3 separate regions of the Homo sapiens genome follow, and all the other regions are linked to region 3. Evidence: fine-mapped expression QTL. A gene starts in region 3. Each other region holds a variant in brackets. All regions are shown on one strand. Distances are from middle to middle. Region 1 overlaps TTL (tubulin tyrosine ligase). Region 2 overlaps ANAPC1 (anaphase promoting complex subunit 1). Region 3 holds the start of TTL (tubulin tyrosine ligase).

What was found. PIP is the estimated chance that this variant, and not a neighbour inherited with it, causes the effect. A credible set is the group of variants that fine-mapping cannot tell apart.
Region 1: its variant is the best candidate, but not a certain one, in a credible set for the expression of TTL in whole blood (INTERVAL, PIP 0.60).
Region 2: its variant is the best candidate, but not a certain one, in a credible set for the expression of TTL in gastroesophageal junction (GTEx, PIP 0.89).

The regions. Positions count from the first base shown.
Region 1 is chr2:112,523,020-112,527,260 of GRCh38, reverse strand. The region is part of intron 6 of TTL (tubulin tyrosine ligase); the gene reads right to left. Among named protein-coding and RNA genes, the nearest start is that of POLR1B, 17 kb to the left of the region's middle. The variant G/A (reference allele first, on the strand shown) is at 1,990.
Region 2 is chr2:111,818,660-111,822,900 of GRCh38, reverse strand. It overlaps ANAPC1 (anaphase promoting complex subunit 1), which reads left to right. Exons shown (of 48, transcript NM_022662.4): 25 at 301-479; 26 at 1,448-1,662; 27 at 3,943-4,061. Among named protein-coding and RNA genes, the nearest start is that of MIR4771-2, 50 kb to the right of the region's middle. The variant G/A (reference allele first, on the strand shown) is at 2,522.
Region 3 is chr2:112,479,902-112,484,142 of GRCh38, reverse strand. It overlaps TTL (tubulin tyrosine ligase), which reads right to left and starts at 1,987. Exons shown (of 7, transcript NM_153712.5): 1 at 1,642-1,987. The coding sequence starts at 1,798. RefSeq lists silencers at 1,217-1,316, 1,877-2,266 and an enhancer at 2,587-2,656.

The sequences.
Region 1 (4,241 bases), 43 kb before region 3:
ATCTCACTTATTCCAAAATTGACCACATAATTGGAAGTAAAGCGACCACATAATTGGAAGTAAAGCACTCCTCAGCAAATGTAAAAGAACAGAAATTATAACAAACTGTCTCCCAGACCACAGTGCAATCAAACTAGAAATCAGGATTAAGAAACTCACTCAAAACCGCTCAACTACATGGAAACAGAACAACCTGCTCCTGAATAACTACTGGGTACATAACGAAGTGAAGGCAGAAATAAAGATGTTCTTTGAAACCAATGAGAACAAAGCCACAACATACCAGAATCTCTGGGACACATTTAAAGCAGTGGGTAGACAGAAATTTATAGCACTAAATGCCCACAAGAGAAAGCAGGAAAGATCTAAAATTGATACCCTAACTTCACAATTAAAAGAACTAGAGAAGCAAGAGCAAACACATTCAAAAGCTAGCAGAAGGCAAGAAATAACTAAGATCAGAGCAGAACTGAAGGAGATAGAGACACAAAAAACCCTTCAAAAAATCAATGAATCCAGGAGCTGGTTTTTTGAAAAGATCAACAAAACTGATAGACCGCTAGCAAGACTAATAAAGAAGAAAAGAGAGAAGAATCAAATAGACGCAATAAAAAATGATAAAGGGGTTATCACCACTGATCCCACAGAAAGACAAACTACCATCAGAAAATACTATAAACACCTCTACACAAATAAACTAGAAAATCTAGAAGAAATGGATAAATTCCTGGACACATACACCCTCCCAAGACTAAACAAGGAAGAAGTTGAATCCCTGAATAGACCAATAACTGGCTCTGAAATTGAGGCAATAATTAATAGCCTACCAACCAAAAAAAGTCCAGGACCAGATGGATTCACAGCCAAATTCTACCAGAGGTACAAAGAGGAGCTGGTACCATTCCTTCTGAAACTATTCCAATCAACAGAAAAAGAGGGACTCCTCCCTAACTCATTTTATGAGGCCAGCATCATCCTGACACCAAAGCCTGGCAGAGACACAACAAAAAAAAGACAATTTTAGACCAATATCCCTGATGAACATCGATGCAAAAATCCTCAACAAAATACTGGCAAACTAAATCCAGCAGCACATCAAAAAGCTTATCCACCATGATCAAGTGGGCTTCATCCCTGGGATGCAAGGCTGGTTCAACATATGCAAATCAATAAACGTAATCCATCATATAAACAGAACCAAAGACAAAAACCACATGATTATCTCAATAGATGCAGAAAAGGCCTTTGACAAAATTCAACAACCTTCATGCTAAAAACTCTCAATAAACTAGGTATTGATGGGACATATCTCAAAATAATAAGAGCTATCTATGACAAACCCACAGCCAATATCATACTGAATGGGCAAAAACTGGAAGCATTCCCTTTGAAAACTGGCACAAGACAGGGATGCCCTCTCTCACCACTCCTATTCAACATAGTGTTGGAAGTTCTGGCCAGGGCAATCAGGCAGGAGAAAGAAATAAAGGGTATTCAATTAGGAAAAAAGGAAGTCAAATTGTCCCTGTTTGCCGATGACATGATTGTATATTTAGAAAACCCCATCATCTCAGCCCAAAATCTCCTTAAGCTGATAAGCAACTTCAGCAAAGTCTCAGGATACAAAATTGATGTGCAAAAATCACAAGCATTCCTATAAACCAATAACAGACAAACAGCCAAATCATGAGTGAACTCCCATTCACAACTGCTTCAGAGAGAATAAAATACCAATAATCCAACTTACAAGGGATGTAAAGGACCTCTTCAAGGAGAACTACAAACCGCTGCTCAACGAAATAAAAGAGGACACAAACAAATGGAAGACCATTCCATGCTCATGGATAGGAAGAATCAATGTTGTGAAAATGGCCATACTACCCAAGGTAATTTATAGATTCAATGCCATCCCCATCAAGCTACCAATGACTTTCTTCACAGAATTGGAAAAAACTACTTTAAAGTTCATATGGAACCAAAAAAGAGCCC[G/A]CATTGCCAAGACAATCCTAAGCCAAAAGAACAAAGCTGGAGGCATCACCCTACCTGACTTCAAACTATACTACAAGGCTACAGTAACCAAAACAGCATGGTACTGGTACCAAAACAGAGATATAGACCAATGGAACAGAACAGAGCCCTCAGAAATAATGTCACACATCTACAACCACCTGATGTTTGACAAACCTGATAAAAACAAGAAATGAGGAAAGGATTCCCTATTTAATAAATGGTGCTGGGAAAACTGGCTAGCCATACATAGAAAGCTGAAACTGGATCCCTTCCTTACACCTTATACAAAAATTAATTCAGGACGCATTAATGACTTAAATGTTAGATGTAAAACCATAAAAACCCTAGAAGAAAACCTAGGCAATACCATTCAGGACATAGGCATGGGAAAGGACTTCATGTCTAAAACACCAAAAGCAATGGCAACAAAAGCAAAAATTGACAAATGGGATCTAATTAAACTAAAGAGCTTCTGCACAGCAAAAGAAACTACCATCAGCAAACAGGCAACCTACAGAATGGGAGAAAATTTTTACAATCTACCCATCTGACAAAGGGCTGATATCCAGAATCTACAAAGAACTTAAACAAATTTACAAGAAAAAATCAAACAACCCCATCAAAAAGTGGGCAAAGGATATGAACAGACGCTTCTCAAAAGAAGACATTTATGCAGCCAAAAGACACATGAAAAAATGCTCATCACTGGCCATCAGAGAAATGCAAATCAAAACCACAATGAGATACCATCTCACACCAGTTAGAATGGTGATCATTAAAAAGTCAGGAAGCAACAGGTGCTGGAGAGGATGTGGAGAAATAGGAACACTTTTACACTGTTGGTGGGGCTGTAAACTAGTTCAACCATTGCAGAAGACAGTGTGGCGATTCCTCAACGATCTAGAACTAGAAATACCATTTGACCCAGCCATCCCATTACTGGGTATATACCCAAAGGATTATAAATCATGCTGCTATAAAGACACATGCACATGTATGTTTATTGTAGCACTATTCACAATAGCAAAGACTTGGAACCAACCCAAATGTCCATCAATGATAGACTGGATTAAGAAAATGTGGCACATATATACCATGGAATACTATGCAGCCATAAGAAAGGACGAGTTCATGTCCTTTGTAGGGACATGGATGAAGCTGGAAACCATCATTCTGAGCAAACTATCACAGGGATAGAAAACAAAACACTGCATGTTCTCACTCATAGGTGGGAACTGAACAATGAGACCACTTGGACGTAGGATGGGGAACATCACACACCAGGGCCTGTTGTGGGGTTGGGGGATGGGGGAAGGATAACATTAGGAGTTATACCTAATGTAAATGATGAGTTAATGGGTACAGCACACCAACATGGCACATGTATACATATGTAACAAACCTACACATTGTGCACATGTACCCTAGAACTTAAAGTATAATAATAACAAAATGTCAAAAAAATAAAGAAAAAAAAAAACTGGTTGCCACTGTATATACAGATGCTTCAGAAGCCTTTGCACGAAGATAAAGCATTCCCTCAGCAAATACTTATGGAAGGCCTTGCAGGTGAACAAGGCACACAACTGGCAGGGAAGGCAGGCATTTCAAGAGCATGTAAGAGCCACCTTGCATTACAGACAGGGGCAGGCCCTACCCAGGAAAAGGACCAACTCAGCATAATTGAAGGGACACTGGAGAAGACTCCCCAGTGACACGGGAAGACTCCCCAGTGACAGAGGAAGACTCCCCAGTGACAGAGGAAGACTCCCCAGTGACAGGGGAAGACTTTCCAGTGGCAGCTAAGCCAAGACCCAATGAATAGAAGGCAGACAGAGAATGGATGACAGGGTAGAAATAAAGAAGAAGGGGCGGATACACACACACACACACACACACAGACACACACACACCCACAGACAGTTTCTTCTGATGAGTTAATCTGATGGCAGTTAGTGCAATGAAGGAAACTGCAAAGGCTCTGCCTAGAGAAAATCAGAGCTAGGACTGTTCAGAGAAAGCTTCCTCAAGATGTTTTGGTAAAGAAGAAGCCAGCCACGGTAAGGCTGGTGGTGGTGGTGGTAATGGTGGTGGGGATTCCACACACAGGTAACAGAAAGCACAAAGGCCCACTGCAGATAAGAGCAATCAAGGGAAATGGTGACTTGGGATGAAGCTGGAGAGGTGGGTAAGGCAGCGGCCTTGGAGGTGGAGGGAGGAGTCTGGTTTGT
Region 2 (4,241 bases), 660 kb after region 3:
ATCCCTAATTAGGTAGAGCATCTTTTCATATGCATGTTGCCCATTTATGTTTCCCCTTCTAGGAAATGTCTTTTTGTCCTTTATATTTTTCTATTAGATTGTCTTTTTTTCTTCAGGTTTTTACAAGTTCTTTCAAAGAGACTTCCTATACTAGTCCTTGATGTCAAGACATTAGTCTGGTAGTAAGATGAATAAAATGAACTTATTTGTCAGGATAGATATTGTTGCCAACTTCAGTCAGGATAATTGGGACAGTGGCGAGTCTAAATTAAAATTTTTCTCTCTTCCTTTAACCATTAGGATTCACTTTAAGAGATTTGGAAACTCTTCCCTTTGGAATTGCTCTTCCCATCAGAGATGCAATTTATCACTGTCGTGAGCAGCCTGCCTCAGACTGGCCAGAAGCTGTCTGTCTCTTGATTGGACGTCAGGATCTTTCCAAGCAGGCCTGCGAAGGAAACTTACCCAAAGGGAAGTCTGTGAGTATCAACATAGAAAGTTCAGAGTTCCAATTTTAGCCTTAAATAAAATCATAAAGTAGAAATGTTCTTCATTTTCCTTTAAGGCTTTTTCTAAGTATATATATTAGCTTGTCTTTTATATTATATGCCAGACGGGGTTTGTAATTGTACGCGTCTTATTAATTGTTAAGATGAGCATTAGGAGCAGGAGATTTTGTGAATGTTCTGTCTTGTGCCTGGATCTTTCTTTGCCTTGAATCAGGACAAGTCCTGAGGGTAGTCATGGAAACTACCATGGCTATTTCCCTACTTGTACCATATTAGTAATTAACCACTTTGTAATTATTACATAGGAAAAGGGAGAGCACATATATCCTGAATTTGGATGAGTAATTATATATAAATATTTTCTACTGCATATTTTTTGATGTGTTGAATTTTTTGAATTTAACCTTTTAAATAGGTGTAAACATATTTGTTTAATCACATAAAACTGCAGCCCCAGGGAAAAAATGTGTTTTTTTCAGTAGAGTTGTTTAAAAACATGTCTTAAGCTATCCCTCCCGAAATACTGTCTTTCATCAATCATCAAGTCTGTTTTTTTTTTCAAATGAGTTCTAGGAATCCTGCAAGTAGAAAGTTAAATTATTTCATTACTCTCCAATTATCTTTTTAAATCATCCTCACCATGTTGGCCAGGCTGGTCTGGAACCCCTGGCCTCGGGTGATCCGCCCACCTCGGCCTCCCAAAGTGCTGGGATTACAGAGTGTGAGCCACCACACCCGGCCAGCAATATAGTACTTTTTAGAAAGATTTGTAGATTAGAGTCCCAGTATACATTGCGGCTCCAACCCATGCCTGCTTTGGAAAACATATTTTCTCTGTGCTAGTATAGTCAAGACACATCAGCCTATATATCCTCATGTTCAGCAAGTGCATGTTAACTGCTTTTGAAATTATTATTACAATAAAGTCTGTTACTCAGGTGCTCTCATCAGATGTTCCTTCAGGAACAGAAACTGAGGAGGAAGATGACGGCATGAATGACATGAATCACGAGGTCATGTCATTAATATGGAGTGAAGATTTAAGGGTGCAGGATGTGCGAAGGCTTCTTCAGAGTGCGCATCCTGTCCGTGTCAACGTAGTGCAGTACCCAGAGCTCAGTGACCACGAGTTCATCGAGGAAAAGGAAAACAGGTGAAAGAAAACACGTGCACTATCTCTTGTCATGTTTCATTGTTACATTTGTGTCTTGTGTATATTTGTTTTTCCTTCAAGTTTTTAGCATTTAAAACCCTAAAGAGATTTAAAAGATACTTTCAAGTGAAAATATGCCCTGTGTTTTAAGTTTTCATCCAACTTCAACAAACCACGTGTGTTAGCAAAATGTCTTTGGCTTTTGAGGACGTAATTGTTGTATTTCATATCGTCCTCCTCTTGAAATACATATAACACTTTACTCTTTAGAAAAGGTGAATGTAAAACTATTTTGCCTGATAGTTACCTTAAGAATTTACAAACAAAGAAAACACTGGACTTGTTTTTCTGTGTCTTGATCAGGAATAGATTTTGAGGTTAGTGGGGTTTTTAGTGTAGTTTAAACTTGTATGAGTATTTTTTTTTTTTGGATATGATAGATGATACTCCAAATAAAAATAGATAAGCCTTTCTTCTGCCACTCCCCTGCACAGGATACATCCCTTGATACATTATAAGACTCACATGCCTATGACATTCCAGAGCTATTCTCTTGGGACACTTCTGTTTTAAAATTCTCTCCTGTTCTTTTATCTGCTTGTCTCTATCATCTATCATTCATCTGCCACTGTTTTCTAGTTCTCTTTACTTTTTTTATGGTACTGTTTTGAGGGGAACCATCACCCACACTTAGCCACAGGCTGCTGAAGATCTGAATTAGTTGTGATTTCCCTATTAACTGTTTCCTCTCCACATGTACCCAGTTATTAGTCACCTGTGAATAAAAAGATGGAGTGACAGAAGTTGAGTTTAGAGCATAGGATTTATGAGCATGGCCTCTAGAGCCAGGCATGGCCAT[G/A]CTGTGCTGGGTGACTTTGGTTAAATTACTTTACCTCTTGTTGCCTCAGTTGCTTCATTTGTAAAAGTAGGCATACTTCATGGGATGGTGCTGTGTATCAAGTGAATTATTTTTACATAGCACTTAGAATACTGCTCAATACATAGTAAAGCTCAGTGCAGTCAGCCATTATTAGTAGTAGAGTTCATTGATTCTAAGATGCAAGTTTTTTCACTTTTTAATATCTCTGAAATCAGTTGTGTATTTCAGTGAACAGGTGTCATAGTTTAATTGGCAGTGCTTTTTCTTTCTTAGTTTCTCATGAAATAATGATACATCTTATCAGTGGCATCTTATATTCAGGGGATATAATATTGTTCTCATTATAATTTTGTTACTTGCGCAAAGTTGAAGTGAATTATGTGTAAGATTTCCTCTAAAAAAATTCTATGGGTTGCAACAGCCTCTTGGCTTTGAATTTTCCTGATCCCAAATTAATGTTGCGGTTGTGTTCCCAGAGAATCTTTAAGACAGCAAAATTTTTCTTTCCAGTTAGCTAGAAAAGCAGTTATGTGTGTCCAGTTAAGGAGGGAGTATGCTTATGAATAGCTTTGTCTGCAGAGAAAATGTTTGTCAGTTGTCAGCCTCTGAAGGGATATTTCTGTGTCTTCAGATATAGCTTGTATAGGCGTTTCTTAGTTATAAATGCCCTACTTCCAAAATTTCTGTTAGTTTTTTTTAAGTGGCTATATGGAATGTTAAGCTATTTTAACATAGGAAGAAGTTGAAGAGTGGTGTATTAATTTCACAGTAGAGCCAACAGAAACCATTTTAACCTTGAACATACCTGATACATAATGGTATTAGTCCTATAAATCTAGCCATCATGTAAGTGAAACCAATCTGTATTTCCCTTGGAGACACCATGAAATCCATTCACCTCTAACACAAGGACCTTGTTTCTTTTCTTGTGTACAGGCCACAGAAATGGTACTTCTGAGGCTGTATTGGCAAAAGGGATGGGAGGAGGATCCCACATGTACTGAGGACAGCTAGACTGAAATTAACACAGTGATAAAAACCCCAAAAGTACTGTATTTTCCTTTGAGAAGGTTAGCATCCATCGGAGTGGAATTTTAAATTTCTTTTTTTTTTTGAATGCCTAGAGAGAGTCGGCTGGGTTTATAGGCCAGGTGGTTTTCATTCAATGTAAATATGAAACAAAACAGAGGAAATATGTCTCTCCCTAAGAGTGTAATAGGAACAAGAATATTAAAATGAAAATAATCATGTTTGGGTAGTTCACTCACATCTGTGTATGAATTTACTTTGAGACAACTTCATCTTATACAGTACACCTTCTTTTGAAATACTTACAGATGATATTTCAATTGCTCTTTGCTTTAAACATTTTCATATGTTGGTTTTTACTTTAATTACAGATTGCTCCAATTGTGTCAGCGAACTATGGCTCTTCCTGTAGGACGAGGAATGTTTACCTTGTTTTCGTACCATCCTGTTCCAACAGAGCCATTGCCTATTCCTAAATTGAATCTGACTGGTATGTTAAATTCTGGGCTCAATGAGAAAGGAAAATGATTAAGTACATGCATTAAGTGTAGTTCTTTAAATTAGTTAAAACAAAAGAAATGCTCCCTCTATCCCCAGTGATTTAAAATTTTCCTAATAGCTGCTGTAGTGGTTATCAAAGCTCAAATGCCATGTGAAACTAAACTTTGAG
Region 3 (4,241 bases):
ACTCCTAGGCTTAAGCACCAGGGTAATGCCAGTCACTCCTACCTCTGCCTGGGCGGAGCCATGTTTGTTGTTTTTAATGTTATGATTCCACCTAAGCTTTCACAGCTAGGCACTGCCAAGAATATAGAGGGAAGTCAGGAAGTCTGGAAGGGGAAGTGGACAATGCAAGGAACAAATAATTGTTCTCAACTATAAGCAATTCTTCCTCTCCTTTCAGATCATGAATTCTCTTTGCTAGGGTCTTCCTGACACCGGTTAACCAAAGGGAGCCTCCAGGCACAGTCTCCATATTCTAAGATTTCTGGGTGTTCAAATGGGTCCTTCCATGGAGTCACCATTCTACATCATAAACTTGTATACCAATGAAAAGTTGTCCCAGGTACTATTCAAAAGAAGAAAATCCAGCAACTTTACACTGCAGCTCTTCATTCCTCCAACGATTTGAGTTTTACACAGCCCCCTCCCAAAGGCTCTGTCTATGGAAGCTCATAAATGACCAGTCAATTCCAAATGGCCCGTATTCAGTTTTTACCCATTTGAATTCTGACCACACCTATTTCTAAAAACTGTTTTCTCTCCTGGACATAGAACATTGCTCTCTCTGGGTTGCCCTCCAAGGTAGAGGTGACTCTTCCTCCGTATCGATTCTCCCCTTGTCTTTGGAATACAATTGGCCCCCACCTCTGGTGAATTCTGGCAAGGAACATGGCTCCCCGGAGAGAAGATGCAATTCCCAGATGACTGTGCAGAGAGGGAGGCCATGAGACTATGCTCAGGTCAATAGGATGTGAGTTGAACCGATCTGGGCAACTTCTGGATGACATCACTTACAAAGGAGCCGCTAGTCCCCTCCTATCTCCTGCGCTTTCCTACCCGTGGACATGTGGGTATGGTGGTGCCCAGCCAGCTTCAACCATGTGGATGAAGGTAATTCCCTCGGGGAGAGCAGGGAAGACAGGGAGGGCGAACGCAGCCTCGTGTAAGATCTTAATCCAATGCAGAACTGCGAAAACACATTATTTGGTGAAACTAAGGAAAGGTTTATAATCAGACATCCCTCCACACTTCCCTGGGCTAGGGTCTCTTCTGCAGCTCCTGCTTTTGGAATCCGGGGGTCTTTTCCAAATCCTCTGATCGCTCCTCCGCGCCTTCGGGGGGCAGAAGCCTCAGGGGTTTCAACACCTACGGCTCCCCCGCCCGCGCCCACGCCAAGCAGGGAGAAATCCTCAGTGCAGACGAGCTGCAAAAGATGACTCCAGCCGCCCGCTCTGCGGAGCCGCGCCCAGCGCGGCGGACCCGCCAAATCTGGGGGCTTCGGCCCGGGGGAGCCGCTAGACTCGCGCCTCAGGTCCCAGCCCCGGCGGCCAGCGTCTCCCGGGCTGCAGGGACCGGTCACCGTCGGGAGGTAGCTGCGGCCCCGAGTGGCCGCACCGCGACTCCGACTCTAAATCCAAGTTAGGAGACAAGAAAGCATTAAAAACGACAGGTTTCGATCTTTCCGAATCCGTTTCTGATGTGCCCGACAAGCGACAGAGGAGAAAATGTATGACCTTTAAAAACAAAAGCGCCGGTTCTAACGGGCCGCGGGAGGCGCGCAGGGCCGCTCCGAGGAGGGCAGACGGGAATCGGGGAGGGGCTCACCCAGTCTCCCGAAGGGCAGCCGATTCCTCTCTCCCAGCATCAGGTTGAATCTGGGGTTGTCTCGCCGCAGCCTCTTCCAGTGGCCGGTGGCGAGGAGCAGCCGGGAGACCTCGGCGTAGACGCTGCTGTTCTCATCGCGTACCACGAAGGTGTACATGGCGAAGCGCCGCGCGCCCGGGCCGCCGGGCAGCCGCCGCAGGGACCAGGCGGCCGAGAAGGCGGCTCAGCGCGGACCCCGCCCGGGCGCCCGCCGCGGCCCGGCCCCCGCCGCCCGCGCCGGCTACCGCGCCTCTCGGGTGCCGGCGGCGCCGCGCCCGGGCGCCCGCCGGGTGCCGGAGAGGAAAGCGCCGCTCGCACGCCCGCCCCCGCCGGCGCGGCCCCGCCTCTGTCCCGTGATTCCGCGCGGCCCGGCCCCGCCGCGCTCTGGAGGAGCCCGTGGGCGGCGGCGCCGCGCCCTTTCCGTACCCTCCCCCGGGGGCGGCGGCGGCGCAGGGTTGGAGACCCGCGGCGGTGGGCGCGGCTTTACCGCAGCGGGCGGACTGTGCGGTGGAACCGGAGCCCGGGCCTGGGGTGGTTCTTTCCGAGCCCCGGGTCGCAGCCGGGGGGCGGTGCCGGCGGAAGATCCCAGTTTGCAGGGCTCGATCTGGGTTTTTCTTCTATTGCCAAAGGACCTTTAATGGATAAAACCCAAAAGTTCTAAGGCCCGGTCCTGTGGCCTAATGAAGAAGCGCTTCCTCTTCCTCTTTGCTTAACGACTACGGAGACCCGGAGCGTCGGTTTTGTTTGTGTCGAGTGCTCCTTCCTTCGGCTGAGCCCAGGGTGGCGCACGGCCAAGGGGATGACCTTAGACTCTGCTGGTGGAAGCAGGTCCCAAACCGACCCCCTGGAGCCCTGGGCTCCGCTCTTTTCCTGCCTTTTACCGGCATTCAGCCACTTGCTTTCCCTTCTCCGGACCTCGATTTCCCCTTATGAGCGGCGGAGAGTGGCTCTTAAAAGTCCCTTCGGTTCTGATAGCCCACTCTGAAGACTGTGCTGCTGCATTTGAGATACAAAGAGAAGGCAATGATCATCAGAGCTCCCCCAAACTTCCTACAGTCCCTCATAAATTACCCACATCAGCCCTGCGCCTTGCATCTTTTACTCTCCTGTAGATAAAGAACACCCTGGGGCCTCTCCCCTTCCTGTCCCCCGATGCTCACGGTATCTACCCGAGCACATTGTAAAAGCGCCCTTCTCCTTCCCATCGTTGCCCAGATTCCACGGGGCCGCCAGGCGCTCACTCGCCTGTCTTGCGCACCGGCTCCACCTGCAGGCAACCGCTGGCTGTGGAGAGCCCGCTCAGAGCAGAAATGGGGCAGACTTAGAGGTGCTGGGTGCTTGCACTCCTTCCCAGCTGCTCTCCCTCCACGAGGGATAGAGTTGGTCGAGAATGCCCTGGCCCTCTCGCCCTCCGCACGTGCCCTGCGGGGAGGCGTGTGTCCTAGGCGTATTGCGGTGGTCCTCTGTAGGCCACGGCTGCGGTTGTCCACAGCTGCAACTTGCTCATCAGGGCATCTTCTGTTGGCTTCCTTCCTTTCCCTGACTACCGATGTTTCCTGGGATCACCTCCCAAAAAAACTACTGTACTCGTGCTCAAATTCTTGTTCCAGGGGGCACCGTTTGGGGGAACTCGAGCCAAGACGCTGTGTTTGCCGCTCTTCACGGCTGATCACCTTGAAAGTGACGTCCACTCCCACCATGCTGCATCAATTCCTCCTGCGACTCCTACTGACGACTCCTGTGCCACAGGTGGCTTCTCTCTGCCACTCCACAACCGTGGATCTCATTAGGAACACCAGTGACCTTTGAATTTCCAAATCCAGAAGCTACCTTTTTCCTTTTTCTCACTTTTTGTAGCGAGCACCATTTTTGTTTCTTTTAGCTGTAGGTTCTGTACGGTACTACTTATTCCCCACCCCACTTTTTTTTGAGACAGGGTCTCACCATATTGCCCAGGCTGGTCTCGAACTCCTCAACTCAAGCCATCCTCCCACCTCAGCCTCCCAAACTGTTGGGATTACAGGCGTGAGCCACCACACCCAGCTTATTCCCTTTTCTTTGTAAGGTAACTCATCTTTCCTCCTTGGAACGTGTGTGTGTGTGTGTGTGTGTGTGTGTGTGTGTGTCTGTTAGGGAGTCTTGCACTGTCGCCCAGGCTGGAGTGCAATGGCGTGATCTCAGCTCACGGCAACTTCCACCTCCGGGTTTCAAGAGATTCTCCTGCCTCACCCTCCTGAGTAGCTGGGACTACAGGCACAGGCCACTATGCCTGGCTACTTTTTATATTTTTGGTAGAGACAGGGTTTCACCATATTGGCCAGACTGATCTCCCAACTCCTGACCTCAAGTGATCTGCCCGCCTTGGTCTCCCAAAGTGCTGGGATTACAGGCATGAGCCGCAGCGCCTGACCCCCTTGGAACCCATTTTTTGTGGCTCTTGTGGGATTAACAGTGTCTGTTATTGATAAAGGAAATGAATATCCAGGCTTGGTCCAACAGGATTACTCTCTATCCCTTTTGCCACAGCGACTGGTAAAACGTAGGAAACTGGTCCAAATCAG